Homo sapiens: one gene and its partners. The protein of the gene in region 4 purifies or fractionates together with the protein of the main gene of each other region. This does not show direct contact. Each region holds a gene or a part of one and is shown on either strand. Other genes may lie near its edges.

What was found.
Region 1: the proteins of ARHGAP11A (region 4) and NSRP1 purify together in Homo sapiens (affinity purification with mass spectrometry; one large-scale study listed by BioGRID and IntAct). This does not show direct contact.
Region 2: the proteins of ARHGAP11A (region 4) and PALM2AKAP2 purify together in Homo sapiens (affinity purification with mass spectrometry; one large-scale study listed by BioGRID and IntAct). This does not show direct contact.
Region 3: the proteins of ARHGAP11A (region 4) and CALD1 purify together in Homo sapiens (affinity purification with mass spectrometry; one large-scale study listed by BioGRID and IntAct). This does not show direct contact.
Region 5: the proteins of ARHGAP11A (region 4) and RCL1 purify together in Homo sapiens (affinity purification with mass spectrometry; one large-scale study listed by BioGRID and IntAct). This does not show direct contact.
Region 6: the proteins of ARHGAP11A (region 4) and CPSF2 purify together in Homo sapiens (affinity purification with mass spectrometry, with the first as the bait; one large-scale study listed by BioGRID). This does not show direct contact.
Region 7: the proteins of ARHGAP11A (region 4) and SEPTIN2 purify together in Homo sapiens (affinity purification with mass spectrometry, with the first as the bait; one large-scale study listed by BioGRID). This does not show direct contact.

Annotation. Positions count from the first base shown.
Region 1 is NC_000017.11:30,171,897-30,176,388, forward strand, and holds part of NSRP1 (nuclear speckle splicing regulatory protein 1), read left to right. Parts: intron 1-645; coding exon 646-702; intron 703-4,492. UniProt on the Homo sapiens protein: RNA-binding protein that mediates pre-mRNA alternative splicing regulation.
Region 2 is NC_000009.12:110,153,689-110,158,180, reverse strand, and holds part of PALM2AKAP2 (PALM2-AKAP2 protein isoform 3 (PALM2-AKAP2)), read right to left. Parts: exon of another isoform or gene 4,428-4,492; intron 3,102-4,427; exon of another isoform or gene 1,978-3,101; intron 1,863-1,977; coding exon 1,684-1,862; intron 1-1,683. UniProt on the Homo sapiens protein: Binds to regulatory subunit (RII) of protein kinase A. May be involved in establishing polarity in signaling systems or in integrating PKA-RII isoforms with downstream effectors to capture, amplify and focus diffuse, trans-cellular signals carried by cAMP.
Region 3 is NC_000007.14:134,933,134-134,937,625, forward strand, and holds part of CALD1 (caldesmon), read left to right. Parts: coding exon 1-944; intron 945-2,554; coding exon 2,555-2,632; intron 2,633-4,492. UniProt on the Homo sapiens protein: Actin- and myosin-binding protein implicated in the regulation of actomyosin interactions in smooth muscle and nonmuscle cells (could act as a bridge between myosin and actin filaments).
Region 4 is NC_000015.10:32,635,630-32,640,121, forward strand, and holds the end of ARHGAP11A (rho GTPase-activating protein 11A), read left to right. Parts: intron 1-147; coding exon 148-286; coding exon of another isoform or gene 287-309; exon of another isoform or gene 310-552; intron 553-627; coding exon 628-2,216; 3' UTR 2,217-4,312; downstream 4,313-4,492. UniProt on the Homo sapiens protein: GTPase activator for the Rho-type GTPases by converting them to an inactive GDP-bound state.
Region 5 is NC_000009.12:4,837,318-4,841,809, reverse strand, and holds part of RCL1 (RNA 3'-terminal phosphate cyclase-like protein), read right to left. Parts: intron 2,043-4,492; exon of another isoform or gene 1,951-2,042; intron 609-1,950; exon of another isoform or gene 605-608; coding exon of another isoform or gene 579-604; coding exon 453-578; intron 1-452. UniProt on the Homo sapiens protein: As part of the small subunit (SSU) processome, it plays a role in 40S-ribosomal-subunit biogenesis in the early pre-rRNA processing steps at sites A0, A1 and A2 that are required for proper maturation of the 18S RNA.
Region 6 is NC_000014.9:92,128,469-92,131,968, reverse strand, and holds part of CPSF2 (cleavage and polyadenylation specificity factor subunit 2), read right to left. Parts: intron 1,019-3,500; 5' UTR 985-1,018; coding exon 836-984; intron 1-835. UniProt on the Homo sapiens protein: Component of the cleavage and polyadenylation specificity factor (CPSF) complex that play a key role in pre-mRNA 3'-end formation, recognizing the AAUAAA signal sequence and interacting with poly(A) polymerase and other factors to bring about cleavage and poly(A) addition.
Region 7 is NC_000002.12:241,335,751-241,340,242, reverse strand, and holds part of SEPTIN2 (septin-2), read right to left. Parts: intron 4,285-4,492; exon of another isoform or gene 4,269-4,284; coding exon 4,145-4,268; intron 2,862-4,144; coding exon 2,727-2,861; intron 2,571-2,726; coding exon 2,453-2,570; intron 1-2,452.

The DNA of each region.
Region 1 (4,492 bases), on a different chromosome or scaffold from region 4:
ACCTGAAATATTATCTAGACCAGTCTTTCCCCATTTCTCACACACACACACACACACACACACACACACACACACACTCCCTCTCTCTCTCTCTCTCTCTCTCTCTCTCTCTCTCTCTCACATGTTCACATGAAGCAAATTGAAATCTGTAAAGGTTGAATGACAGTAGTGAATTTAGGACTAAAAATTCATGTTTACTCATCTTTTCCTGTACCATTCTATTTTCTCTGATACCTTATAATCTATTCTGAGGATTTACAATGCAAATTCATTTATTTCCTGAAGTTTAGGGAAAAAACCCTGAAAATGTTAGTTTAATTTGTATTATTATCTTTTTACTTTTAACTATAAGTAAGGCACCATTGCCAACCAGAAAACAGGTTGAGCATCCCAAATCTGAAAATCAAAAATCCTAAATGTTCTAAAATCTAAAACTTTTTTGAGCACTAATGTGAAGCTCAAATGAAATGCTCATTGGAGCATCAGATATCAGATCTTCAGATTTGGGGTGCTGAACCAGTAAGTATTTTAAAAATCTGAAATACAAAACACTTCTGGTCCCATGTATTTTAGATAGGGGACGCTCGTACTGGAAAAGAAATTTTAAATTTGTTTAAAAAGTGACAATATATTTCTGTTTTACAGACCTCTGTGAGTGAAAGCCTTCAGAGGGAAGCTGCTAAGAAGCAGGCCATGAAACAGGTAAGGTAGAAGACTGGGATAAGTGCATTCAGTGAAGCATTCCGGCTCATTTTTAAGCATCAGTTTTGGTATCTAGGTGCTGAGACTAAAACAGAATAGATTTAAGGAAAAACACAATGAAGAATTAGCTCCTTATTGCTGTGCTATAGATTAAACCAGTTCTGCTTGTAGATGACTCATTAGTCTAATAATGGATTGTTTGGCCTGTTGTTATTATTAAATTCTTGCTAGTGAGCTTACTTGCAGGGAAAAAAAAAACCTTTTCACAACCAAAATGGTTTCACAAACTTATAATTATTTGAAACTCATCTGCCCAGAAAGAAGAATATCAGAGATAGATACAAATATATAGATATATAGATATATAGATTTTTTTTTTTTTTGAGATTGAGTCTTGCTCTGTTGCCCAGGCTGGAGTGCCGTGGTGCACTCTCGGCTCACTGCAGTCTCCATCTCCTGGGTTCAGGCAATTCTCCTGCTTCAGCCTCCCGAGTAGCTGGGACTAAAGGCGCATGCCACCATGCCCAGCTAATTTTTATATTTTTAGTAGAGACGGGGTTTCACCGTGTTGGTCAGGCTGGTCTGGAACCCGTGACCTCAGGTGATCCGCCAACCTCAGCCTCCTGAAGTGCTGGGATTACAGGCGTGAGCCACCGTGCGCGGCCTGATAATTTTTAAAAGACGTGCTTGTTTCCAAGTGCTTTTTACATACATTTATCTTTTACAGTTCTCACAAACTTGCCCATAGTACTGATTAAGAAATCTGAAACTCAAAAAGGATAAAGTGCTCCTTAAGATCATACTATTAATTATCGAACTAGGCCTGAAGGTTTACTAATTTTTCTGCTATTGTAGACTAGTATATCTTAGATTTTCTGCTATAGAATGTAATGAAATTAAACAATAGCGAGGTGCCTTTGTTTTTCATTTTGAATTATTTATCCTCTCCATTAGCTTTATAATTTTTGGTCCTATTTCCTCTTTGTCTAACTGGAAACCTGCATAAAGATAAGTTTATTAAGCACTTTCTATGTGCCAGGCATCATGACAACTATGTTTTAAGAATGATCTTTAATTCTTACAATAATTCTATGAGATAGATGCTTTTATAATCCTTATTTTATAGTTAAGGAAATGAAGGCAAGAAGAATTTATGTGACTTGCATGAGACCACATAGTTAATAAATGGTAGGGCTGTGTTCAAAACTAGACAGTGAAACCTCAGAACCTAGGCTTTTAACCACTGTGTTTCACACCCTCCCGGACGAATTGGCACAGAAGGATATATTTAGTCATTTTAAGATAATGTCAGAGTTTCACAGTGAAATATAATGTGTAACTCAGCAGCCTCAGAATGATTTAATATACACATAAAACATAAAAAACAGTGATTATTTAACATAAATACTGGAGTGCTTTGAGTCAGAATTTTGGAGATACCATTAAGTTCAACTTCCTCACTATATAAATGGGAGACTTAGTTCTGGAGAGTTGGGTAACTTATCCAAGGTAATACAGGTATCTTGTTTTCCAGGATTATTTTAACATTTTTGTGCTGCCTTTTTTTCTTCACTTAAAGCATGAATCCCAAATCTGATTTTATTCTTAACTCTGTCTTGTTCAAGCCACTTTATCTGTTTAGTGGGACTTTTTGTAGTTTGCTTGGAAATTAGGAATGCTGCTACAACTCTTACACCTTTCACCTGCTTTCTGCTGATTTTTTCTCGCACCTATATTACATACTTTTCCCTTTGTTCCCCACTTGATTGATTCAGCTCATCGAATGTCTTTATCCATACGAATTGAAATTATTTTTCATTTTACTATGAAGAATACTAGCTTGATTGCATTTACTAAATCTTAGAGAAAATGCTTTTTAAAATGGGGTACTTTAAACTATTTTTTTCTTCTATGTGGACCTCAAGTTTACAGAACTGATGATGGCAACATTATTGTCATATTCCGTTTCATTGGGAAAACTTTCAGTATGTCATCAGTAAATAAAACATTTGCTGTAGGTCTCTGATAGATATTTGTTGCTAATCTAAGGAAATTATTTTCTTAGTTGGAGGGTTTTGTTGTTTGTTTATTTGTTTAAATGGTGAACTACATACAAAAAGGATACTGCTTCATGACCATGTTGGTTTTATACCAATAATGTAAAGTCAGCTTAACTTTAGAAAATCAATCATTGTAACTTCACATAAGTGGTATAAACTTAACATAAGCATAAAATGTTATCATTTTCATATATTGTTGCATTTGGCTTACTAAAGCTTCATTAAGAGTTTTTAAGTATTGAAGATTTTTGCATCATAAGTGAGACTGGGCAGAATAGGATGGTTTCCTTTTCTTTCGCTGCAATTATCTAGATTGAAAAAGTCTGATAATACCAAGGTTTGGCGAGCCTTATACAATGAGCTAATATGATACTATATACATTTTGTTTGTTTCTACTTCATTTTCTGTCCTGACAGATCAGTGTGTTCTTCATTCTGTTTTCTTTGGGTTTATTTTGTTATTTTTCTAACTTTTTGAGATTGCTGCATAGCTCTGTTTTCTGTTCTCTTTTCTAATATATGCATTTAAGGCTATATGTTTCCCTCTAAGTACTTCTGTAGCTGTATCTTACAGATTTTGATAGGCAGTATTTTTGTTGTTTCATGCAAAACATTTTCTGATTTGCATTATGATTTCTTGTTTGACCCATCTATTATTAATTTCTGAACATAACGGAGGTTTTTGATTACCTTTTTGTTATTCATTCCTAATGTGATTACTTTGGTTTTTTGCTTGTTTGTTTTTTGGGGTTTTTTGTTTTGTTTTGTTTTGTTTTGTTTTTGTTTTTGTTTTTGAGATGGAGTCTTGCTCTGTACCTAGGCTGGAGTGCAGCGGCACGATCTCAGCTCACTGCAACCTCCACCTCCTGGATTCAAGCGATTTTTCTGCCTTAGCCTCCTGATAGCTGGGATTTCAGGTGTGCATCACCACACCTGGCTAATTTTTATATTTTTAGATGGCCAGGCGCTCTCTTCACCTCAGGAGATCCGCCCGTCTTCGCCCCCCAAAGTGTTGGGATTACAGGCATGAGTTGCCACACCCAGTCCCTAACATGATTATTTTGGATTCCAAGACACTGCACTGTATTGTTTCATTCCTTTAAAACCTGTAGAGGTTTACTTTATGGTCCAGTATATAGTCAGTTTTTATAAATATTTCCTCTGTGTTTGAAAATGTTCTGTATTGATACAAAAATTAGCCGGGCATGGTGGTGTGCACCTGTAGTCCCAGCTACTCAGGAGGCTGAGGCAGGAGAGTCACTTGAACACAGGAGGTGGAGGTTGCAGTGAGCCAAGATGGTGCCACTGCACTCCAGGCTAGGCAACAGAGCAAGACTCCGAACCCCCCCCCCAAAAAAAAAGAAAAAAGAAAATGTTCTCTATGTGTCCATTGGGCCAGTTGTGTTAATCCATATATATTCATACTGTTTTTTTTTGTTGTTGTTGTTGTTTTGTTTTGTTTTGTTTTGTTTTGTCTGTTCTGTTACTGAGAGGCATATGTTAAATCTCCCACTGTGATTATGGATTTGTCTATTTTTCCTTGAATATCTGTTCAATTTTTGCTTTATTTATGTTGCAACATAGTTAATAGTAACATATCTACTCAAGTGCTCCCCTACAGCTCTCCTCCCAACATATACAAAGGCATGTCATCAGTTTAAAACAGCCCTGGCCGGGTGCAGTGGCTCATGCATGTAATCCCTGTACTTTGGAAGGCCAAGGTGGGTAGA
Region 2 (4,492 bases), on a different chromosome or scaffold from region 4:
AGGGCTGGTGAAAGTGACTGAGTAGCCAGGGAAAAATCCTGCAGGCTCACGAAAGGAGCTGCTGGCTCCCCTACAGTGAGGTTCAGCAGTGGAAATGTCTGCAGCAGCTACCCAGGGCCGGGCATCATCCCACTGTCTAATACAGTGAAGAGCCCAGTAGAATAGCTGCAGCCTAATACAGCAGCTGAGCCAGTGCTCCACGCAGTTCAGGTGTAAACAAAAGGGAAAGCCTGGGAGATGCCAAGTGAGAAGCCAGGCTGCCAGATATCCATTTGCTTTCTTCCTTTCTTTACCGCCATATATTTTGAAAGCAACTTTCAGCATCTGGGCTTCAACTCCAGAAATCCTTTAACTTAGCCAGCTAGGATATAAAAGGCAATAAAACAGCAGGGAATTCTTACTGTGAACTTCATAGCATTCAAGTTTAAGGTGACCAGATGGTTTATCACCCAAACTGGGACACTTTCAAGAGTGAAAGGCAGGCTGGGTGCAGTGGCTCATGTCTGTAATCCCAGCACTTTAGGAGGCTGGGGTGGGAGTATCCCTTGAGCTCAGGAGTTGAAGAACAGTCTGAGCAACATAATGAGACCTCCTTTCTACAAAAAAGTTAAAAAATAAGCCAGGTATGGTGGCATACGCGTGTGGTCCCAGCTATTCAGGAGGCTGAGGCGGGAGGATTGCCTGAACCCAGGAGGTCGAGGCTGCAATGAGCCATGATTACATCAATGCATTCCAGCCTGGGTGACAGAGACAGACCCTGTCTCAACAACAACAACAACAACAACAACAAAAGAGTTGAAGGGGATATTAATAACCACAACACCACAACAGGCATAAGCCAGGACTGTCTCAGGTAAACTCAGTAGGATCCTCAACCAACCCAAGCTATCTGTGACTTAAGTGCAGTCAGGGGAGGAGGTGATGACTTCAATATGTGCTAAGAGACTGGTGCCAGAAGACCCACAGGAGGTTGGCATGAACCCTGAGGCTGATCTCCAGGCTCCTGGGACTGTGTAGAGCAACAGTTCCTATGTCTCTAACCGGAGAAAGAAACCACAGAGCATGTGACTTCCTTCACAGTTAATTTGAACGTTATGTGCAAAGTTCCGAGGGCTTGGGTGTAGCAGAGTAGCCATGTGGTTTTCAACTGTCATTTTCACTGGCTCTTTGCTTTCAAGCTATGCACATGGGCTTGTTAACAGCCCCAAACACACTCAGTCTTTTAAGCACTGTAACATTGTTAGGGATTGCCTAGAGTGTCGGCTTTGAAGGAACAGCATCTTCATCCTTTTCTAGAGAAATAAAATCTCTACTGGGCAATGGTAGAAATCAGCTCCCAGGTGCATAGGGATGATTTCAGGGCACTTGCAACCTTCTCCCTGCGTGGCCCTTGCATGCTGTCTTTCTATGCACCAAACATCTTACACACTAGCCTTGCTGGTCGACTCCAGCTATACTTGGCAGCAAAGGACCAGCTCCCTGCAAGATCAACAATTTTTTTTTGAAACAGGCAAAAACCCAAACCCAGTTCCAGGCATGTGAAACCACATATATGAAAACTGATACTGGAACCCTAATGCTGACCAGACAACGACATACACATTTGTGCCTGAACTGGAATGCCACACGCCACACCGATGGCCGCGCTCAGAGAAGTGAAAGAGGAAAGGAGGAAAAACTTACACTACTATCATCCATTCTCTCGCGCCTTTTAGATTTGTGTGTCTCATAGTCTTCCATGAGGGTCTGCATCAGATTCTTGGGCCGCTGGGTTCCGGCAGCCTCTTCAGGGGCTAAGTCAGGCTGCAAGCTGGGGCCTTCAGTGGTGGGGGATGGAGGAGGTTTGACTTTCTCTATTTTCCCTGAAACAACACGAAGAAAATACCCTTTCTAAGCTTGTCTGCTCATGACTGCTTTTAGAAAGAAAACTGGCAAATAAAAGAGCAACAACCTCTGACACAGAGAGTGGTACCAGAATGATGGTTAAGTGTAGGCCATTTTATTATATTACAGGGATCAAAGCACTTAAGGTTAATGCACAAACCCATCCAAAGATCTCAAGGACACCAAGTTCCAAAAAGTCAGTTAGATCAAACAGGCACAGCACGCATTTTGCAAATATATGTTGGACAGACCGACAGTGGCTCCAGTTGTTTTGAGATATGTATTCTATCACAGATCACAGAATTAGACTGTCAGAGGTGGTGGCACCTTGGAGACTCACAGACCCACTTCTTAACAGATGAAAGCGCTTGAGGCTCTGCCAAGGGAAGGCTGTACTCAAGTCATAGGGAGCCAGTGATGGTACCCAGGCCTCCTGCTTTCCTCACCAGGGTCTATCCTCTATAGCAGAGGAAGTCAATTGTCTGCTGACCTGCCCAGGCTTTTTGTGCAGACAGCCCAGTGTTATAAAACCTTTGAATAAGGATGAAGTTTGTTCTTCTCAGTTTGCCCCGGTCTTACACTGGCCAGCTTTATTCATTTACCTCACCTGCTGGGGTCCTGAAACATTGGGGTTTGAGGCCTCCCAGACCTTAAGAAGTGTACACCAACAAAGGCAATGGAAAAGGTGCACACCAGCCTTGGGAATGAGGAGATTTTAGCTCTCGCAATGTCCTCCAAGAATCCTCAGGATGGAGAGATGAGGTCAGTGATTAATTCAACAGTGGTGTGGTGACTCTACGCACCCTCACCAAGACCATTTCCATCCCTCCCTCCCAAGAAATGCCTGGCCCTGGCTTCTGGCCCTTCATGGGGTGGGTTTATTGACACAGAGCCCCAAATGCACTTCTGAGAAGTATCTTCAAGTATAACAATTATGATTTTTCCAATTATGCCCTTTGTGGTTGATGCGGCTAAAACCTGTGAACAAGGAATGTGGATAAAACACACAAGATAAATGGGGCTTGCATGGCTCCGTTTGGGAGGGGAAAGGGCCATTTGACCTCTTCCAGTTCCAAGCCGAAGGGGACTCACCTTTCTTCATCTTACATCCCAGGCTTCTAACTTGGCAACTGCCTGATGTAGCAGGAATCACAAGTGAAGCCTGGTGTCCACATTTCCATATGGGCTGCTTAGCCCTTTACTGGCACAACCTCCTTCTGATGAGAGATACAAAGGCCTGGAGTCCAGGAAACCCAGGTTTTTAACTCCTGCTCTTCCAGTACTTGGCTACGTGACTGACTATAGATCATCGTTTCATATTCCCATTTCAATCGTGGGCTGATCACTTAAATTCTCCTAGCTTTAACTGCCATAGCGGTTAAATGGGAATTTTGGAAGAAGTTATCTTTGTGGTCTCTTCTAACTCAAACGTTTTGCTATTCTATCAAATATGTTTGGCAGGATACACCCTTCTTGATTTTTTTTAAGGTATTTAGCTGTTACACTTGGGGATTAGGTGGAAAATAGGTTTTAATATACAGAAAAGGGCACTGCATTTCATGGCCACATTACATTAATAACAGTGAAATTTGTTGCTTTGATCTAAATTACCCAGATAACTGAAAAGTCTTTTGATATTAACAGTACAATAATAAGTATTTCAAAATCTCCAAGTTCACTAGAAACAGTTCCTATTTTTTATTACGGAAATTAGGGAATGCTATAATGACCCCTATAAACATTATAAACATCACCCAGAGTAAACATTTATCAAGATTTTAGCATAATTGGCTCTTCCTTCCTTCCTTAGACTTGCTGAATTATTTTAAACCAATCCCAGACCTCAGGTCACCTCACTCCTGCACACTTAGTATGTATCTCTGAAAATTCCGATTGACTTTTTAATTGAAGGCTTAAGAAACAATATAGCACAGTGGTGAGCGTGTAAGCTCTGGAGCCAGCCGGTTTGGGCTTGAATCCATGACTTGGCAGCCAAATCACTTTGGGCAAGTTACTTACTCTTTTGATATCTTAGTTTCCTCATCAGTAAAATGGGTATGATGATAAGGGTACCTACCCTCAGATAGTTATTATGAGGACAAAGTTAATATTTATAAGGTTAATATTCAGAACAGAAAGCATCTAATGATTCTAGCTACCACTTAATTGGAATCTCAAAGAATAATGTGACTATAGGGTGAGATGAACAATTTCATGCATATTCTGCATAAAATTTTTGCATCTCTTCTGGGACCAGAAATAGACACCAATTACCAGGTTAATTTTCATCATTTTCCAGTTGACCTCTCAAGTGTCCAGATCACTTCCCACCAGCCACTCTTCCAGAGTTAAACACCTAGAAAGCACAGCCTATATTCATTGCTTCTAGCTTCTCCCTTTCACACACAGCACAGTGGAACTCCTGTTTATATTTCTGTGAAGGCCATTTTCACATACTGACTTAAATCTTATCTGGCTATTGAAGCTTTTGTCTTCTCAATTAAGCTATAATGTCATCCTGAGGACAGGGGGGTATGTTTCACCTGTCTATGAATCCCCTTAATTCATTTGAATGCAAACTCCATTAGGGTAGAGCCTTGCCTGTCTG
Region 3 (4,492 bases), on a different chromosome or scaffold from region 4:
ACCCAACAATAACAGATGCAAGTCTGTCGCTCCCAAGCAGAAGAATGCAAAATGACACAGCAGAAAATGAAACTACCGAGAAGGAAGAAAAAAGTGAAAGTCGCCAAGAAAGATACGAGATAGAGGAAACAGAAACAGTCACCAAGTCCTACCAGAAGAATGATTGGAGGGATGCTGAAGAAAACAAGAAAGAAGACAAGGAAAAGGAGGAGGAGGAAGAGGAGAAGCCAAAGCGAGGGAGCATTGGAGAAAATCAGGTAGAGGTGATGGTGGAAGAGAAAACAACTGAAAGCCAGGAGGAAACAGTGGTAATGTCATTAAAAAATGGGCAGATCAGTTCAGAAGAGCCTAAACAAGAGGAGGAGAGGGAACAAGGTTCAGATGAGATTTCCCATCATGAAAAGATGGAAGAGGAAGACAAGGAAAGAGCTGAGGCAGAGAGGGCAAGGTTGGAAGCAGAAGAAAGAGAAAGAATTAAAGCCGAGCAAGACAAAAAGATAGCAGATGAACGAGCAAGAATTGAAGCAGAAGAAAAAGCAGCTGCCCAAGAAAGAGAAAGGAGAGAGGCAGAAGAGAGGGAAAGGATGAGGGAGGAAGAGAAAAGGGCAGCAGAGGAGAGGCAGAGGATAAAGGAGGAAGAGAAAAGGGCAGCAGAGGAGAGGCAGAGGATAAAGGAGGAAGAGAAAAGGGCAGCAGAGGAGAGGCAGAGGATAAAAGAGGAAGAGAAAAGGGCAGCAGAGGAGAGGCAAAGGGCCAGGGCAGAGGAGGAAGAGAAGGCTAAGGTAGAAGAGCAGAAACGTAACAAGCAGCTAGAAGAGAAAAAACATGCCATGCAAGAGACAAAGATAAAAGGGGAAAAGGTAGAACAGAAAATAGAAGGGAAATGGGTAAATGAAAAGAAAGCACAAGAAGATAAACTTCAGACAGCTGTCCTAAAGAAACAGGTACAGTAAACATTTTGCACCAAATGTGTGATGCCTGTGACTTGTGAGAAATGTAATGCACATCTGATTTGGGACTGAGGCCACATGCATATAGCTCACATGCTTGATCATTTGGCAAGCTGTTCATTTTTTCAGGCCATAGCGATACACAAGCATGCAGCAATTGATTGATGGCTGAATATTCAATCAACCAAATTTACTGGGACAGCCAGTAAATTTGGCTGTCCAGAAGACAGAGAGAAATTAATTGCTCTGTGCTTGATTGTTATGAATACCCAAAAAAAGAATTAATCCAAAGATGATAAATGTGGTGGTGGTGTGTTGGCTTCTGATTCTGTGCTTGCATCTAAACTCGTTCTTTTAATTATCTTTCCTCTATCCATAGGTCTGCATGAGGCAAGAGGCCCATAACTCCTTACCTCACTCATGGGTTTGACGTTGAATTAAAAAAATGATAAAAGCTGGGGTGGGAAAGAGACATGAAGAATAATGGTCAGACATTTCATCTTAAGAAGGCAAAAACAGGCTGGGTACAGTGGCTCACACCTGTAATCCCAGCACTTTGGGAGGCTGAGGTGGGTGGATCACAAGGTCAGGAGATCGAGACCATCCTGGCCAACATGGTGAAACCCCATCTCTACTAAAAATACAAAATTAGCTGGGTGTACCGGCACATGTCTGTAATCCCAGCTACTCAGGAGGCTGAGGCAGGAGAATCACTTGAACCTGGGAGGCAGAGGTTGCAATGAGCTGAGATTGTGCCACTGCACTCCACTGGGCAACAGGGAGAGACTCCATCTCAACAACAAAAACAACAACAACAACAAAAAGGCAAAAACAAACCCCTGGAAATTAACTGGTAATAAAGAGGGGGAAAGGAACTGGTTGGAAACTTTCCTTAAAAAAAAAAGTCAAAACCCTGATTTGCCAACATGTAGACCTCAGCTTAATGTAGACTTGCAGAAAGCCATTAATTTAGGGTAGTATTGATTTATATTTGACTGGTAATTAAGAGCATACATGCTGCTTCTTTATTATCTGGGTGACACAAATTCATGTGGCCTGAGGAAGGGTGGAAATAGTAGGGGGGAAATGTTTGTAAGCTTTGAGAAAGATTTTTTTTCTGTCTGCAAGACTGCATTGAAAGCACTGTACCTAATCACCACCACACCACCACCACCACTCCTAAAAAAAGAAAAAAAGAGATGCTTTCACATTCACCTTTCCAGAGCAAATTCTCTGTCACTAAGCCTGCATTGCACTGAAGGTATCTTTAACTCCTGCTTCTGTACAAGAGGCTCATGAACACAGCTAAAATTGAGACCATGAGCAAAGTGCACCAAACCACACACGAGGTTTGTAAACACACGAGGAGTGCCACATCATGCTAGATTTCAGTGAGCGCAATGGCAGGCACACGAGAAGATGTTGGGGTGGGAAGAAAATATCCCACCTTGCTGTTTAGAACCACTGTGCTGTGAGCGCTGAGACGGCAGAAGAGAAGCCATCCCACGCAGCACTTGCAAGGCGATCCGAGCACCCTGTCACTCTTGTAAACTAGAAAGGGCTTCTTTTACTTGTGTGACCTTACCATTCTTGAAAATAAAAAGGGAGAAGAGAAGGGAACTAAAGTGCAAGCTAAAAGAGAAAAGCTCCAAGAAGACAAGCCTACCTTCAAAAAAGAAGAGGTAAATATGATTGAAAAGTAATGATCGTAAAGCAACAGAAAAAGCAGTCAGTGTTCCAAGATATCTCAGGTCTGATGATCTCAAAATTGTAACCTCATATCCAGTGTATTTCAAGCCATGACTCACAGTCCACTGAATAGTGAGATCAGCTTAGAGTGTCTCAAAATTAATTAAATGTATCAGTCAGCATTTTTTAAAAAATGAAATGGATAGAAGCCATCAGAGGGCATTGTAGGTAGTAAGTATTGCATTGTCAGGTAAATTGTCTTTTTTTCTGTGGGACGTCATCAAAAAGGCTTGAAAAACACTGCTGGAATCAATTTATCCTGTTTTCTATTCTTCTGAATGCTAATTTTTTTTCCTTGAGCCATTCTACTTTCATTTCAATCATGAAATATTTCCAACTGGCCTTGATTAATGCTTTAACTTTTCAAAGGAAAAACACCCACACACATCTCAGTAGAAAATATGGTGAACTGAAGATGATATTTGGTTTTCAAAAGAAAAGTTTGGCCAAATGTTCTGCATTGCATTTCTGAGGCACACACAGGAGCGGGTGCCAGGGTATTTGACTGTAGGTAAGTGAACAAGGAGCTATACAGATAGAATGGCACGGGGTTTGACAGTAATCAGAACACCACATCAGAACACTTGATTGCACTTCAACTCTCATGCTGTGTTTGCCCCAAATAATCTTAAAAATTGTGACTATATCGAATAAGTTCACAATACTTATTAGGATGTGGTGAAACTGAATTATTTGAAGTAGGAAGACCCGAAGTTCTTCGCCTATGAGACTGGTGAAGTGATTTGTAGCCAACATGCTCCAACCCATCTATTAAGAAAACTATGGCATCTATTAAGAAAATTCAAAATCTTAAACAGAGAAATCCATATTTAGAAAACATGGCCAGATTAAATAGGGGGTGGGTTATTTTCTTAAATACGTTTTGTCAATTTCACGTGAAAAATGAAAACCCCTAGTTCATGTTACATATTACATTTCTGTTAAGATGTATGTTCCTCTGTTTCTAATAGAAGTTGTGGTGGTTTGGAAGTGAAAATTGAATGTGAGCACAGGCCATGTAAAGGAAGGAGAAAGTGTAAATGTTAATAACAGGAAAACTGAATTTAGCTCTCATGAGGCAGTCAAGGAAATCATTCATTGAACATGTTGGGAAATACTTTTCATTTGGTGACCAAATACCTACAAATTCATTTACAAAAAAGAAAAATGAAAGTTACCTCAGAACTAAACTCAGAAATATGTCCCACATGGGTTCTTGTAATGTTTCTTGGTGAATGTCTTTATAGAAAGAAGTGGGCATGAAATGATGACTCAGTAATTAAACACATGGGGGAAGGGAGGCTGTAGAAAACACTGGATTCTATATTTAAAATTTCATTCAGTTCACTAATTTGTTTTTACTGACCAAAGCTTTCTATACCTATGTAGAGTGTCTGAGAACTAGAAGGGCCCATCAGTTGCCACTCGGATGATCCTTTTGTCTCTTTTCAGATAAGGCCCCAGTTCAACAGCGTCCTCTGTGTCAATCAGATACTCCCAGGAATGAGTGAGCCCTGCCGTTTTCCCAAGTTGCCCCTCAGCACATTCCAGCCAGTTCCAAAACTTTTGGCTTGTTTTTGACACAAGGCCAGATAAGCTACTCAAACTGGTTTTTTTAAAAAAAGAAAACAACCCCAATCTATATTCCTTTTTTAATACTGTGTACATAACCTGCTGCTCGAAAGACTAGGTTTTCCCCTTTCCAGCTAGTTGTGTTGTTTCTTTATGTAGACAGCTTTAAATCATGTTTACATGATTCAGCCATTTTAAACAACCTCTTCCTATTTTTTTTT
Region 4 (4,492 bases):
GTTTGTCATTGTTAAGAATTGTTTCTCAATTATATATCCCTTTTTAAATCAGCTAAAGATTTTGATAACTACAAAAAATTATTCTGTCTTTATATTTTGAATTAACTAGGCTTATTTCTTAACTAAAACTTTTTTTTTTCTGTACAGAATGGATGTTCTGGTGTCAATAGATATGAAAGTGTTGGTTGGCGACTTGCAAATCAACAAAGTTTAAAAAATCGAATTGAATCTGTAAAAACAGGTTTGCTTTTTAGCCCAGATGTTGATGAAAAGTTACCAAAGAAAGGTACATTTACATACTACTGTTAGAGTTTTACCTAAAAATCCTGCTTTAGTTGCTTTTTTAATGGCAAAACATATTAATTAATTTACTGTTCTAGAGATTAAAAGTTCATGTTTGAATAGTGAAAATATTAGAATTGGCAATGTATTTTTCTATCAACAATTGGGAAATGCTTATACATGTAAATATGAAAATGTTTGACATTCTTATGTTAAAAATTATTTCTTGTAACACAAATACTTTATTAGAATTAAATGCTTAGTGACTTATTTGCCATGTGCTTGGGTATTATTTCAAAACAAGGTTAAATACAAAGGATTAAGCACTGAACTGCTTTATTTTAGGTTCAGAAAAGATCAGTAAGTCTGAGGAAACCTTACTAACTCCAGAGCGACTAGTTGGAACAAATTACCGGATGTCTTGGACAGGACCTAATAATTCAAGTTTTCAAGAAGTAGATGCAAATGAAGCTTCTTCAATGGTGGAAAATCTTGAGGTAGAAAACTCTTTGGAGCCTGATATTATGGTAGAAAAGTCACCTGCTACTTCATGTGAACTCACCCCTTCCAATTTAAACAATAAGCATAATAGCAACATAACAAGTAGCCCTCTTAGCGGGGATGAAAATAACATGACCAAAGAGACTTTGGTGAAAGTTCAAAAAGCGTTTTCTGAATCTGGAAGTAATCTTCACGCATTGATGAATCAGAGGCAGTCATCAGTAACTAATGTGGGGAAAGTAAAATTAACTGAACCATCTTATTTAGAAGATAGCCCAGAGGAAAATCTATTTGAAACTAATGATTTGACTATAGTAGAATCAAAGGAGAAATATGAACACCACACTGGTAAAGGTGAAAAATGTTTTTCAGAGAGGGACTTTTCACCCCTTCAAACTCAAACATTTAATAGAGAAACAACTATAAAATGTTATTCAACTCAGATGAAGATGGAACATGAAAAAGACATTCATTCAAATATGCCAAAAGATTATTTAAGCAAGCAAGAATTCTCCAGTGATGAAGAAATAAAGAAACAGCAGTCCCCAAAGGATAAACTAAATAATAAATTAAAAGAGAATGAGAATATGATGGAAGGTAACTTACCGAAGTGTGCAGCACATAGCAAGGACGAGGCTAGATCCTCTTTCTCACAGCAGAGTACATGTGTTGTAACAAACTTGTCAAAACCTAGGCCTATGAGAATTGCTAAACAGCAGTCATTGGAAACATGTGAGAAAACAGTTTCTGAAAGTTCACAAATGACAGAACATAGAAAGGTTTCTGATCACATACAGTGGTTTAACAAGCTTTCTTTAAATGAACCAAATAGAATAAAAGTCAAGTCACCTCTTAAGTTTCAGCGTACTCCTGTTCGTCAGTCCGTCAGAAGAATTAATTCTTTGTTGGAGTATAGCAGACAACCTACAGGGCATAAGTTGGCGAGTCTTGGTGATACAGCTTCTCCTTTGGTCAAATCAGTGAGCTGTGACGGTGCTCTTTCCTCTTGTATAGAAAGTGCATCAAAAGATTCCTCTGTTTCATGTATCAAATCAGGTCCTAAAGAACAGAAGTCCATGTCATGTGAAGAGTCAAATATTGGTGCAATTTCAAAGTCAAGCATGGAGTTACCCTCGAAATCTTTCTTAAAGATGAGGAAGCACCCAGATTCAGTGAATGCTTCTCTTAGGTCTACTACAGTTTATAAACAGAAGATCTTATCTGATGGCCAAGTTAAGGTTCCCTTGGATGATCTGACTAATCATGATATAGTAAAACCAGTTGTAAATAACAACATGGGCATTTCTTCTGGGATAAATAACAGGGTCCTTAGGAGACCATCAGAAAGAGGAAGGGCCTGGTACAAAGGTTCTCCAAAACATCCTATCGGAAAAACTCAATTACTACCAACAAGTAAACCTGTAGATTTGTAATTGGTAAATGTTATACTTGTCATTAATGTAAATAAAGTGAGTAATTGGTATGACTTGCAGGATGATGTACATGTTAGTTTGTAGCTCAGGATGATTGTTAAGCAATAGATTTGCTCTATTGAAAATGTTTCATTTTTTTCACTGTACAAGCAACTTAGATTTTTATTTGTACAAATTACTTCTTTGTTTTTCTTAATGATGGCAATTTTTAAACTTTAATTTTATTGTGATCTCTTAAAGCAGAGGTTAGACTTTACCTTTCTGACTCTGTCGTCCAGGCTGGAGTGCAGTGGCGCAATCTCACTGCAAGCTCCACTTCCTGGGTTCATGCCATTTTCCTGCCTCAGCCTCCCGAGTAGCTGGGACTACAGGTGCCCGCCACCACGCCCAGCTAATTTTTTGTATTTTTAGTAGAGACGGTTTCACCGTGTTAGCCAGGATGGTCTCGATCTCCTGACGTTGTGATCCGCCCGCCTCAGCCTCCCAAAGTGCTGGGATTACAGGCATGAGCCACCACGCCCGGCTAGACTTTACCTTTCTAAAGAAATTGTTTACTGGATTTATAAGAAGTTAATTTTTGAAAATGACATATTTTTGTGTGATAGAAAGAATGGAGCAAGTTGTGCCTATTTCCTCCAAGTCAGATAAGGTTTCTAAAATAAATAAATTTCTAGCATATAAAGGGTAGAGATAAACTCTGCAAATCTTATGTCTGGAATTATATTAATGTTTATTGTCCTTGCCAAAATTCCTAGAAATTAATTTCCTTCAATAGCATCCTAAAACTCTATTTTTATTTGGGGCAGAGTAATTTCATTTATAGTGCCAGTAGGTGTACCTTGTGTTCACTCGAACTAAGAACAATGGTTAAGGCAGAATAATGACTAAAATATGTTCATATATTATGATGTGGAAATAATTGATAACTTTTAAGCCATACTATGTTTTTAAAGATAATTTGCACAAACACGTTTGTGTCTGTTCTGTCCAATATAGATTTGGCAATTATTTAAAGAGGGATAATCTTGAAAAAAATTAACCAAGGTGATTTCTTATATGTAGATGCTCGATTTTGGAATTTGAAATAGTAGATGCACCTCTTTACCTTTTTTACTTGGATAAAAACCTATGATGATTTTGTCCTGTGTGTAAATGTTATTTATTTAGCATAGACATTAAAGATAACTCTCTGGAAAATGACTTGACTAAGGCTCTCATGAAATTCAAAGTGCCATTTAGAACATGCACCAAATTGTCAAGTAAATCTGTCTAAATTTATATTTTAAATTATTACAAATTACACATCTTTGAGGAAAGAGTATTATGAACAATAGAACATATTCTCTAGGTTGTAGAGGAAGGAATAAGCAGACAGAATCAACCACTAAAGGTAGTTTTTCAGATTGGTTGTTAGAATGTCATGTTTAGATGTTGGAGCAGATTAGAGCAGCATTCATGCCACTCGGAGCAACCAGACTTACAGCATAAGTATGTACGAGGAATTTCAAATCATCAGATGTTTGCTTGGCTAGGTTCTACTTTGTTTATTTGATATCAAATAGGTTTGTAGATGTTTATGGCATTTCTAATTGTAAGTAGAGACAAAATATTCATATAGTCAGATATATGTTGTCTGCTTTAAACAATTTTTAAATTTTAAAAATGCATTAACGTCTTTTTATATCCATCAAGGGAAGGATGAAATGTTGAATTTGAAGACTAATTCAGTAAGAAGTCCTAGGGGTTTAACTGTACATACTACCTGAACTGGCTTTTCTGAGAGATGAATCAATAATGAAACATGTCTGTTTTAAAAACTACCACATGTGACTCCTATTTTTGTTAGCTGAAAGCTGCTATACGGAGTATTACAGGAATGTGAAGGTGACTAGCTTGAAGGTAGGGTAACTAGAGAGCCAGAAAAGTTTTGTTTTAAACTTGATTTAATGCGTTTTTATTTTTTCTTATACAAAATAGAGATAATGTTGCTAACTTCATGGAATATTTGAGGAAATGATATGAAAGTGTCTGGACGTGCAGTAACCTCATGGGTTCTTCTCACTGTCTTATAAATGTAAATAAAGATCTAATATTAATTTGGTTATCTAATAACAACTTAATACATAGAACTTAGTAGACTGCATGGCCACATTCTATAATATGATCACTAAGAACTTAATGTAGGATTTTAATAGTCATGTTTTTCTTAATTGTGGCAGAATTTAAACCTTAATTTTGTGATCTTTTTTAGTTAGTTTGTTTTTTGTTTTCTTTTC
Region 5 (4,492 bases), on a different chromosome or scaffold from region 4:
TTCACGTCTGCAATAACAACTTTCTCTGGATGTAAATATGTTGTTTCCACTGATGAAGAGAGATGCTGACTTACACTTAGATAACAAAAGATTTTAACCCTATACTGTTATTTACTCAGGGTGGAAGAACCTGTCCACTTTAATTTTTTTGTTGGAACAGAGTGCAGATGGAATTTAAAGCCTAAAGCATTGTGTATTAATAGATAAAGGTTTTAATTCCCCAAGGCTAGGAACCAGACCCTTAGCTTCCAGCTCTAGCCACTGGGATGCTTTCCATGTGACAGGCACTCAAGAAATGCCTGTTGGTGACAACGGCAATAAGGCAGAAAGAAATTAATTCTGAAATTGTTCTTCCTCTGGCTGCGCAACCTCAGAGCTGGCAGTTTTAACTTCAACTAGAACAGGCATGTGAAAAAGCTGCAGAAACAGACTTCAAAAACACAGATACTTACTTCCCAGAGTTGACTCCTTTCATGTGATCTGTGTAAATATAGATATCAGGTATGAACTTGTTGAGGATGCTCCTTGCAGAATCCACAATCCGGTTCGCCATCTGAGGTGACACACGTACAGAGTACCTGCAGCCTGGAGTTAAGGATGTCATTCTGCTTGAATTCCAGGACAGAGAAAAATCAGTTATAAAGCTGGCAAGTATTTGTGGAACTGTAGTAACAAACTGGGACTTCCAAATCTATTGTTTTCCAACTGAATTTACTGAATTAGTACCATAATTAAATTTTTTTCATTATTATAAAAGGTCATGGCAAAAACACCCAAACAATAGAGACAGTGGAAAGTATAAAGCTGGAGGTCCTCAACCCCACCCCCTGACTTCCTACCCACACGCTTCCCCTAGAAATGGTTCAAGTCAATTTTGGAAGGTGTAAAGACACCTGCCTCTCTGCGGGTCATGATCCAGGCTCCCTCTGAAGCACAACACCTAAGAACACTTTCTATTCTCTGTCCATTCCCACTGCTGTAGCCAATGAGTCTCTCTCTTAAGAACCTAAGCCCAGAACAGACACCACACAGGACCTGGGCGATCCCAATCTGACTCCTGGTATGCTGATGGGAGAAGCAGAAAAAGTTCAGTGAAAGAACATGGTTGCTGCTATTTATAAATATATAAAAAGGTTTTTCTCATTTACAGGGCCTATTTTCTACTATTTAAGAATTAATTACTCCACTTGTGGATAACACAGCCTCCTCACACCTGCTACCTTATGGTTAAAATATTGATAATTAGCACTCCTACAATAGGGCACCCCAGAAAAGAAAGGAGGAAGATATTAGTAACTCAAGTGAAAAGATTGGTGCTTGAGGAAATGGAAATTATTGCCTAAAACTAGACTTTATAACAGAAGCTGGCATTCCCCAACCACACATGTCAAAGAAAAAGTAAGTATGTATTGAGCACTTCAATGTGCAATGTATGGTCAAGAGATGGCTATATATTTGGAACTAAAAAAATGGAGAAATAACATGTGACCTTCCCACTACCCTGATACAAACCCCACGTGACAAGTCCAACAGGTAGAACGAGGTATATAATCTGCCCAATCCAGCCCAATGTTCAAGAACTGCTGACAATAACATATTTAATTTTCATCTGAACTGCAGAAACAAAGTGCTCAGAGACGATACATGACCTGATCTGGTATCTAGCTCCCTTTTTTGACCCATCCTGAACTTCATACTAAAAGACCAATCTTCCTCATGCTGGTGACAGTCTCTCGGTGGCTCCTGGTCCTCCCATATCTTGTTGTTAGAGCCCCCAGCCTGCTCAGTTGTGTCCATCTTCAGCTCTGCACCATCAACTCCTTCCACCCATCCAAACTGACCAAATTCCTCAACCTGAGCTGCTTTGCCCCATTCTCCCAGCCCGAGGTCCCAATCTCTCTCCTGAAACCCTCCAGCCGGCACCCAAGTGTTAGCTCCACTTGAACTTACCATACATCTCTCTTCACATATGCACATTTTGTTCTTGCTCTTCAATGAGACCACACACTCTATAAGGGCAAGGGCTTTACCTCTGTAATCCCTCCCAACTCTCCAATACACCACTTTTGTACTCAGAAATGCTCAATAAATATTTAACTTGACTCAAAGGACAAACCTGAAATGAGGAAAGAGCAAAGAGGGATTTTTCAATACACACACAGCCCAGTTACATCACCATCTCTTCAGTCCAGAATGTACTTTTGACCACAGACAGCTTAGACAAACAGTCCTGAATCTCATACCCTTTGGACCAAGCAGGTGCTGTCCTTCTGAGGTCTGAGGCTGCCCACTGTCCCCAGGAAAGCACAAGAGATGTCACCATCCTAGCACATAATCCCACAGAGCTCACGGCTCCCAAAGTTCTTTCACATCTATTATCACCTTACTTTATGCTCACAGTAACCCTGTGTTGAGGGCCATGGCTCCGAGTTCTAGGACTTACATTAAAGACAACTAAGACAAAAAAACTAAGACACTTGCTCAAAATTAAACAGATCTGACTCCCAAAAAGCATCTTCCTCCTCTCACCCATCCCAATACAAAAACACGAAGGTTAACAAACAGTACGAATTCAGGGCCTACAGAATCCTATACTAGAACTCAGGCAATGAAATGAAGAAGGCAAAGGAACTTTAAAGCCAGTTGCTTAGAACCATCTGGCTTGGCATGGATGTCCTACTAAGGAATGGCTAACAGCCCCCAAGTTCTAGAATCAGATTATCTCCGTTCAAGTCCAAGCTCCAGCAAGCTGCATCACTCCAGGTTAATTGTGGTAACTTCTCTGTGCTGTCATTTCCTAATCAGTAAAAGAAGGATAATCATAACACTTTCCTCACAGAGTTTGGAGGCACAAATGAAATAAAATGCATGTAAAGCTCTTAATGCCTAGTGTGTAGTAGGAGCCCAACAAATGTCAGCTATTGCTTTTCTTTATTACTTATCCAAGATTCAAATCCCAAGCAGAGGTTCTTATTCTTTCAAGAATCAGAGAACTCTCTGAGAATCTGATGAAAGCTATGGACCCTCTCCTGAGAAACATATATACTCACAATCTTGCAGAAAATTTTTCAGGTTTATGAACCTCCTAAAGCCCATTTATGAAAACCATATTAAGAACCAATACCAATGTACAAGTCCATAGCTACAGTCCATATGGGACTCCCACTCTTCCCCTTCCCCAATGTTCCATGTCAGAGAAAGCTAAGAGGGGTGTGTGTGTGTATGTTACAGTAGGTGGAGAGAGAGCTTGATTCTCAAAGTACCTTTCCTACAGTCAAGGAAAAGAAACTAGATTATCCCACGAATTCCAACTTATCCCCCTTTACTGCCAGCTTTTTCACTTAATTCTCATGTACCAAATCATGAGCTCCTAGGACAGCACTGCAAAACTAAAACAGAATGTTCCTTTCTCTTACGCCCCACATAAGGCAGGGGTGAGAAAGAGTGGGTGGCATTAAGTAAAAGGTAACTACTGTGTAGTCACAGCTGCTGGCAGGAACCAACACCAGCTCCCTCTGGGCCCTGGCTGGTAGGTCATCTTGTAGAACGCAAGAGGGAAAAGATGCACTTTGGAAGTAATTCAGTTAAAACCACAAATGCACACAAGAGAGTGGGCCTCTTTCTCCCAGTCTGAGCCCTCCCATGGGAAATACAACCTCCAAGCTTAGTCCAGTAGTCAACCAGCCTTGCAAGGAAAAAAACCACAAAACCAACTCAAGCTTTTTCCAAAGGCAGCTCTTTTTTCCCAGGCTCCAAAACTGGAGAAGAGGGCGATCTCCATTCAAACCAACATTCCTTTGAGGTGTTTGTGAAATGGGCAGCTCTGCAGAGCAGTGGCTGAAATGTTTGGTTAACAGACAGGGATCTGAGAAAGGGCACTGTGTCAACTCTCCTGGGGAGCCAGGAGGAAGCCTCAACCAGTCAGAGATATATTGGGGATGATTTCCATGTCCTATCCCCTGCCTCCAGGGAGGGAGGAACTTGGGACCTCACAAGTCTCTTCCTGGCTCAGATTCTACACAGGGAAGGTTCCAAGAACATTAGAGGGAGAAGCCAGGGAGGAACATAGTTACACCCAAGGTGCCCGGCACTACAGCTCTTTTAACTTTTATGTTCTCCCCTGGAAAGCCCTTCCCCATTTCCCAGCATCATCATCAAAGGACACGACCATCTGCACACCCAGAGAGAACAAGGGGGACCCCACTGTGATGAAACCCATGTTGTTATGACAAGATTGTGTCAAAACAGAGCACACTGCCAGAAATCACATTTCCAGACTACAGAGACTGGATTCCAAACAAAGTTCACGGCCGCCAATACAGCATTAAGGAAACACATCTCAAATAAGGAGGAAAAAAAACAACTACCCCCCAGACAAACCCAAAATAGTACTGAAAGTGTATTCCTGTACACTTATTGGAATGTATTGGAAAGTGTATTCCTATACACTTATTACACTTTTTTTCACCATTGCCAAAAATGTTGTGGTTAA
Region 6 (3,500 bases), on a different chromosome or scaffold from region 4:
AATTAATAAAATGGTTTGGATTTTTTTTCTCAAGTTCTAAAGTTTTTTAAATATTTAAGTCCTCTTTTCTTGCAAAATTAGTATAATACTGCAAACATCATTGACTTTTTATTTTATCTTATTTTTTTTTTGAAACAGAGTCTTGCTTTGCGCCCAGGCTGGAGTGTAGTGGTACGATCTCGGCTCAGTGCAATCTCTGCCTCCTGGGTTCAAGCAATTCTCCTGCCTCAGCCTCCCAAGTAGCTGGGATTATAGGTGCACACCATCACACCCGGCTAATTTTTGTATTTTTAGTAGAGTTGGAGTTTCACCATGTTGGCCAGGCTGGTCTCGAACTCCTGAACTCAAGTGATCTGCCCACCTCAGCCTCCTAAAGTACTGGGATTGCCAGCGTGAGCCACTGTGCCCAGCCCATAATTGATTTTTTTTTTGATGAATCAGTATCTCATGGTCATTCTGAGAACCAGCTGACAATGTTAAGCATCAAAAGATGTAGAAAGTAAGCTAATGTGATCTGACCACAGAACTTTCACATGGAAAATGTTTCCTCTTCTCAAATTCTTATGTATTCTTGTTCTTTCCAAAAATTAGCATGCAAAAGTTTCTACTGAAATCCATTAGCTTAAGATTTTGCTGAATTTCAACAAGCAAAGCTTATAAGTCAATCAAAACTTTACAAGTTAAAATGTCACTATAGGTTTTTGGCATAAGTAAAATTAAGCCTTTTGCTATAAACTAGTGTAAAAAGGCAGTATTTATCACATCGAAATGGTATTACAGTACAGAAAAGAGAAGTTGATTTAATAAAAACATAGAATTATGAAATGTAACTTACTTCCTCAGGGAATCAATAATATCCATAGAAAAGTGCTCATCCCAGCCACAGTCCAATAAAAATCTAAACTCATCAACTTGGAGAAGATAGCAAAGGGCAGATTCTTCTTGGACCCCAGAAAGGGTAGTTAATTTGATAATAGACGTCATTTTTTTTGGTCCAGAAACAGCAAGCTAGAAGAGTCTTTCAAATGAAATGAAAACATAATTAAACATAAAAGCACAGTCTGGCATATATAATAAACAAATTGATTAAAATTATTTCAAATCTTTAAGTGCATAGAAATTCCATTAACACGAAAAGCAGTTTAAAGGCCCATTTCCATCATTGCCAAGTTTACTTTTTTTTTTTAAGTGAAAGCAAGTTTATTAAGTCACTGCCAAGTTTAAAAGCACAAAGATAATCTTAGACACAATGAGCCCTTTAGTGGCTCCCTAGTGGGGTAGTGAATGTTGCAATCAAATAGACCCATATATGAATCTACTTCTATGTGATTTGAAGCAAGTTAATTAAACTTTCCTCACCTATGTATCTCAGTCTATAAAACATTAGTATTAGTATACATGTAAAAACAATGTTGAAGTATTTCAAATAATGTATAAATTACCTATAACAGATACTACTGCATCCAAGTTCCTCAATAAATAAATGTTTAGGAATTAATGAACTCATCCTTCAAGGTGAATCTCTTCCTCTTTTATCTTGCTTTGTGATGGCACTGATTTCACTGTATTACAATGATTAGTTTACATGTCTTTCTCTCCCATTAATTAGACCAGTGGTCCTTAAATAGATCCCCTTGAGAATCTGATAAAAACCTATGGACCCTCCCCCTCCCCCACCAACTCTCAACACACTCAAACAAAAAACAAGAGTACATATACACGTAGAAATTCACAAACTTTTCAGGGAGTTTAACATTAAGAACCCTTGCATTGGAATGTGAGCAACTGAAAAACATAGGTGGCATATGTTTGCAACTCCCTAAATAGAACCTGATGCACGCTTCAACATATATCTGATGAAATGCAAATTGGGATGCCTACTACATATATTTCAGGAAAATATAACATGAACACATCTACAGGCCAGGCACGGTGGCTCACGCCTGTGATCCCAGCACTTTGGGAAGCCGAGGCAGGAAGACTGCTAGAGTTCAGGAGTTTGAGACCAGCCTAGGCAATGTAGTGAGACCCTGTCTCTACAAAAAAAAAATATAAGAAAACTGGCTGGTGGCATGTACCTGTAGTCCTAGCTACTCAGAAGGCCAAGATGAGAGAATTGCTTGAGCCCAGGAGTCCGAGGTTACTGTGAGCTATGAGTGCGCCACTAGACTGGGCACAGAGTGAGACCCTAGAGTGTACCCTAGACTGGGCAACAAAGTGAGACTTTGTATCTAAAAAATAAATAAAATAAAATATATACATTTTTTAAAAATGGGATTTAGAACCTGGAACTGTGTGCTATTAAGCAGAAGTTATGAAAATATTCATTAGCAAAGTTCAACTCCACAGCAACATTTCAGATTTTAGCTCCCTAAAATAAATGAGCTTTTCCTGGCTAACTATGCAAGTAGGAGAGAAGGCCACCGAGTTACCTAATAATTTCTTACCACTACTCAAGGCCATCAACAAACTAAGGTAAACTGAATATCCACCTTTCATAAGAGGCTGACAGGGGCTGCTAAACCCACCACATCTCCCAGCCTTGTTTATCTGAGTGACAGCCAAAATCACAAGACTGCTAGGTTATCAATTATCAACGATGTGTACGTCTCCCAGTAAGACCTAATCCCCTACCTCTTCTCCCTCTCAAATCCTTTCAGGATGCTCTCTGGAACTGTGATCATACTCACCTGTAACTGCAACTGCTTCTCTGAAAATTCTCTTCACCTGCTTGTCTTCCCAGGTACCTGGCTGTTCCCTCATCATACTCTTCCTCTTACGGCCTTCTCAAGGTTTTTTGTTGTTGTTGTTTTAACTTCTTGTACCCCCTGTACTTGAAAAGCAGGAGGTATGTGTTCCTTGCTCCTCACTGCAGCTTCTAAACCATGTCTTCTCTTTCCTCTTTCAAATAGTCTAGTCCCATTAAAGCTCTTGCCACCCAGCAGTTCACTATTAGTCTTCCACATTTCCTCTTCACTATGGCATCTATTCACCTGGCCTCATTCACTGAGGACTTTTACATGACCCGTTGTTCCTCTCAGTAACTTCAATACTGACCTGTTGGTTCCTTGACTTCCTCAACTCCAATAATCATTTCACTTCAGCCACCCACCACTACGATTACACCCTAGACCTTATCACTACCAGTAACTGTTCTACTTTCAAAATTTCACTTCAAGCATCTCATTCTCTAACACCTTACTTACTCTAGTATTCCCATTGCAAAAATCCTCTGGGGTCAGTGGTATCTCTCTAATTCGCTGACTACTTTTTCCCTATCCATGACCCCCTCCTGTTTTTACTCAGGTCCTCACCTTCAATTCATGATCTGTTAACATTATTTGCAAACACTCAAATGTCTTGCTCCTCTAGGTACTTCTCTCTACTAGGCTGGCAAAACCCCAGTCCTGATTAACTCCAATCATGCAGGGCCGGCGGGGGGATGGGATATGGAGGAGAATTACAGCTGTGCTATTTGCTTTTTTTTGAGACGGAGTCTC
Region 7 (4,492 bases), on a different chromosome or scaffold from region 4:
CGGCAATCAAGGAAAGGCAAATTCAAATGAGATACAATTTCTCAGACAGGAAACACATTACAAAAACTGGCAACATAACCAGGACAGTTTTAGGGGGTGGAGAGAAGAGTACACTTTGGAAATGTAAATTGTTACAAACTTACTTTAGAGCAAATTTAGTCATCCTTCAAAAATTTAAATGTATACTTATTTCCTAAGAATTCGTTTGGCTCACACAATTGTGAAAAGATAGATGTACACCAGTGTTCATTACAACAATTATGCAACAAATCTATTATGTGCCAGACATTATTCGGAACTCTGGGAATACATAAGTGAACAAAGCAGATTCCTGATCTCAGGACCTGGGGTCAGGGGTCAGGAGAAGCCAAAAAACACGCTAGAGAAATACTTTATGCAGTGTGGGGGGAGTGCTACCAGCAGAGCAGGGGATGGAGATGTGAAATCTTGTGTGCAGCGTTGGGCTCAGTGAGGGAGTTCCCCACACAGGTATCTGAGGGAAGACTGTTCCAGGCAGAGGGTATCACTAGCAAAAGCAGCGAGCAAGGGGCAAAGAAACAGTAAATTTGGTCAAAGAAGAAAAGGGGCCAGAGTAAAACAAAAAGTAAGCCAAATATTCATCAGCAGGAAACTGGACAAGTTAGAGTATATTCATATGGTGGAATGCTGTGCATCCAGGAAGAATTAGGATACAGTATATATATGAGGATGCTTCCAAATATTTTTAAATAGAAAAATCAAATGGCAGAATAGTATTACTATGTGATTTCATTCTGCAAAACCAAAAACATAAGCTATGTTCTAGAAGGATATATACTTAACAGTTGTTCTTTCTGTGGGTAATTACAGAAATTCTTTTTTTTTTTTCTTGAGACGGAGTCTTGCTCTGTCACCCAGGCTGGACTGCAAACAACCTCTGCCTCCTGGGTTGAAGCGATTCTTTTGCTTCAGCCTCCTGAGTGGCTGGGACTACAGATGCCCGCCACCACGCCCGGCTAACTTTTGTAATTTTTTAGAGACGGAGTTTTGCCATGTTGGCCAGGCTGGTCTCGACCTCCTGACCTCTGGTGATGTGCCTGCCTCAGCCTTCCAAAGTGCAGGGATTACAGGCGTGAGCCACCACACTCGGCCTAGAAACTCTTTTATTTTAAAAAATATATGTATATTATATTTATATATATATAATATATAAAAATGTATATATAATATGTATATAAATATAATGTATAAATATAATATTTATATATATTTATAAATATATTTATATATTATATTTATAATATATATTATATATATAATATATATAATAAATATATGTACAATTATATATATTATATATAATATATATAATATATATTATAGATATATTAAATATATATATTTTTATATATATTATATATTTATTATATATATTATATATAAATAATATAAATATAATATGTATTATATATAAATAATATAAATATAATATATATAAACAATATAAATATATTACATATAAATAATATAATATATATAATATATTATATAAATAATATAAATATAATATATATTACATATGTAATATAAATAATATAGATATAATATATATGTAATATATATTATATATATTTATTAATTATATATTATATATATAAAATATATATATATATTTTTTTAGAGACAGCGTATTGCTATGTTGCTGAGGTTGGCCTCCAACTTCTGGGCTCAAGTGATCCTCCTGCCTGAACCCCCTGCTGTATCCCCCTACCCTGCCCCAGCAACTGTGATTACACGCACAGATCGGTATGTTCATTTAGGGATTTGTATTTTTATGCACGTACCGGTATGTTCAGTTAGGGATTTGTATTTTTAGAGTTTAGCATATATAAACTATTTGGACTTTCTTAAGGAGCATATAATCAGAACAAAGTAAGCAATTTAAAAATATATAGCAGAGAATCAATAAAGAGGCTTTACAGACATACACGGAAGAGGCACTAAAACTGGGACACCACAGGAGCTGCTGGCGGGTGAGAGGCGCTTCGCTGGCTGACAACTGCTATGTTTCCAAACAGAACAGAGAACCAGTCTACTTAGATACATCCTTGTATGGGTCATTTGCAGTAAAGAATTTAGGTAAAATAACAAACTTCATGGAGAGATCACATTTCTATATTTGAGTCATTTAACTCCCATGGAAGGTACTTGTGTGTAACCAACTGCTACTCATCGAGGGCATTTTAAATATAAGGAGAATTTAAAGAATAGAAATTTGATACCTTCATGAAGGCAAAAATTAAAATTTGTAACCATCAGGTTCTCCTTGAAAACCACCACTAAAATGCAGGAAAAATTCTCCCGCCCTGCCTCCCGACACCTGAGCAGACTGAGCGTGGGAACACACTCCTTTCTTCATCCCCATGCCCCCGAGTCGCACCCAGAGGGAGGGCAGGACGCCAGCCTCACTCACCCTTTTCTTCAGCCGCTCCCGTTCCTTCAGGGTGAGAGTGTCAGCTTTTGCAATGACAGGCACAATATTCACCTTGTTGTGTATTGCCTTCATAAACGCCACATCTAAGGGCTTAAGTCTAAAATTAATTTTAGAATTGTCACTTATTTAAAAAAAATACATACAAAACTCTTCTCTCTCAAATTATCTTAATTCTTATATTAAAATACACAGTTTGGGTAAAACTTACAAACCCATGTAGTAAAGCATTTCTCCACGATAAACAATTACTTACCCATGTCCAAAAGGTGAAATAAAGTAAAAGCAACAATGCACCCTATTATCAATGATGTGCCGCCTGTTCAAGCCGCTCTCGTCATGCAGGTACCTCTCAAATTGCTCATCAATATAGGAGATAATTGTCTTAAAACTGAGAGAAACAGAAACATTAACAATAATCATAGGGTATAAAACAGGGGGTCCCTGACTTCAAAGGGAAAACAAGTGCCTCCGCCCAAATATACATAATTTAATAATTCATTTTCAAGATGAGAACAGAAGACTGACTTTTAGATTTGGCAAATGGAAGTTTTTGGAAACTATGCCAAGCATAACTGCCCCTAAGTGCTGAGAGTCAAAAGCCTGAATGGAATAGGTTATGATGCACCTGAGAGAGGGCCAGTGTAGACAGGGCTGCCAATTCGTTCTTTTTTTTTTTGAGACTGAGTCTTGCACTGTTGCCCAGGCTGGAGTGCAGTGGCGTGATCTCGGCTCACTGCAACCTCTGCTTCCAGGGTTCAAGCGATTCTCCTGCCTCAGCCTCCCAAGTAGCTGGGATTATAGGCACACGCCACCACGCCCGGCTAATTTTTGTATTTTTAGTAGAGACAGGGTTTCACCATGTTGGCCAGGCTGGTCTCGAACTCCTGACCTTGTGATCAGCCCACCTCAGCCTCCCAAAGTGCTGGGATTACAGGCATGAGCCATCGCACCCAGCCAGGGCTGCCAATTCTTTTCAGGAACGTGACTGTGAAAAGGGGCAGAGGAACAGGGTGGTAGAGAACATGGGTCAAGAACAGGTTTATCTGAGCTGGGAAACAGCATTTAACTGAGCTGGGAAACAGTACAGCACTTTCACATGTAAGAAGGGAGAAATTCCTAAATGTAGGAGAAAGATAACAGAACCTTCCCCTTTTCATCTAGTGGTGGAAACCTGATGCTTTATGTTGACAGGAATAGAACCAGGAGGGAGTTTGTACAACAAAAGTGGCATTCTTTGCACGGTACAGGTGACAGACTGCTCTATCTTCTACTTCTTCATTTCCTTATTTGTGAAAATGATGCCAATGAGCAGTCATTTACAGACACTACGACTCAACCCACTCTCTAACAGGTTTCACTTCCTTCCACATAGAAAGGATGTACTACAGTATCTCGGTCACCAACCACGGCTCAAATCCAGGTGTTTCATTTATACTAGCAGTCTATGGATGACTGGCTTTGCGATCTCAAATTACAGTAGAGTACCAGAAAAAAATTACTCTCTATAAAATTCCTTATTTAAAAAGTCAACATTTAACACGCTTTAAATTGTCTAGGTGTTTTATTATATACAGCAATCCCAAACTTAATAATCACTCATTAACACTATCTATAAATTTATGAAGTATATTAAGTAAACAAATGCAGATCCCTGGGCATGGGGGAGCATACCAATCTCTGCAGTTGATAGCGTCACCATAGCCAGGGGTATCTACCACTGTCAGGCGTAGCTTGACCCCTCGCTCTTCAATTTCAACAGTTGAAGCCTCAATCTGGACAGTTCTTTCAATTTTTTCTAGAAAAGAAACAAACTTAATAGGGAATATAAGCAGCATGTGAAGAGGAAAGCTCACGTTCTTACGACAGGTGACTTCAGAGTCTACTGCCTCTCTACAGAGGTAGGTTCTCCAAAGATACCATGGGGATTAAGAAAAAAAGATCCCAGAGAAGTCAGAAAGGGGAAGGTTAAAGCTAAGATTATTGTGCTACTGGGGAAGGTTAAAAACACAAATGTTAAAA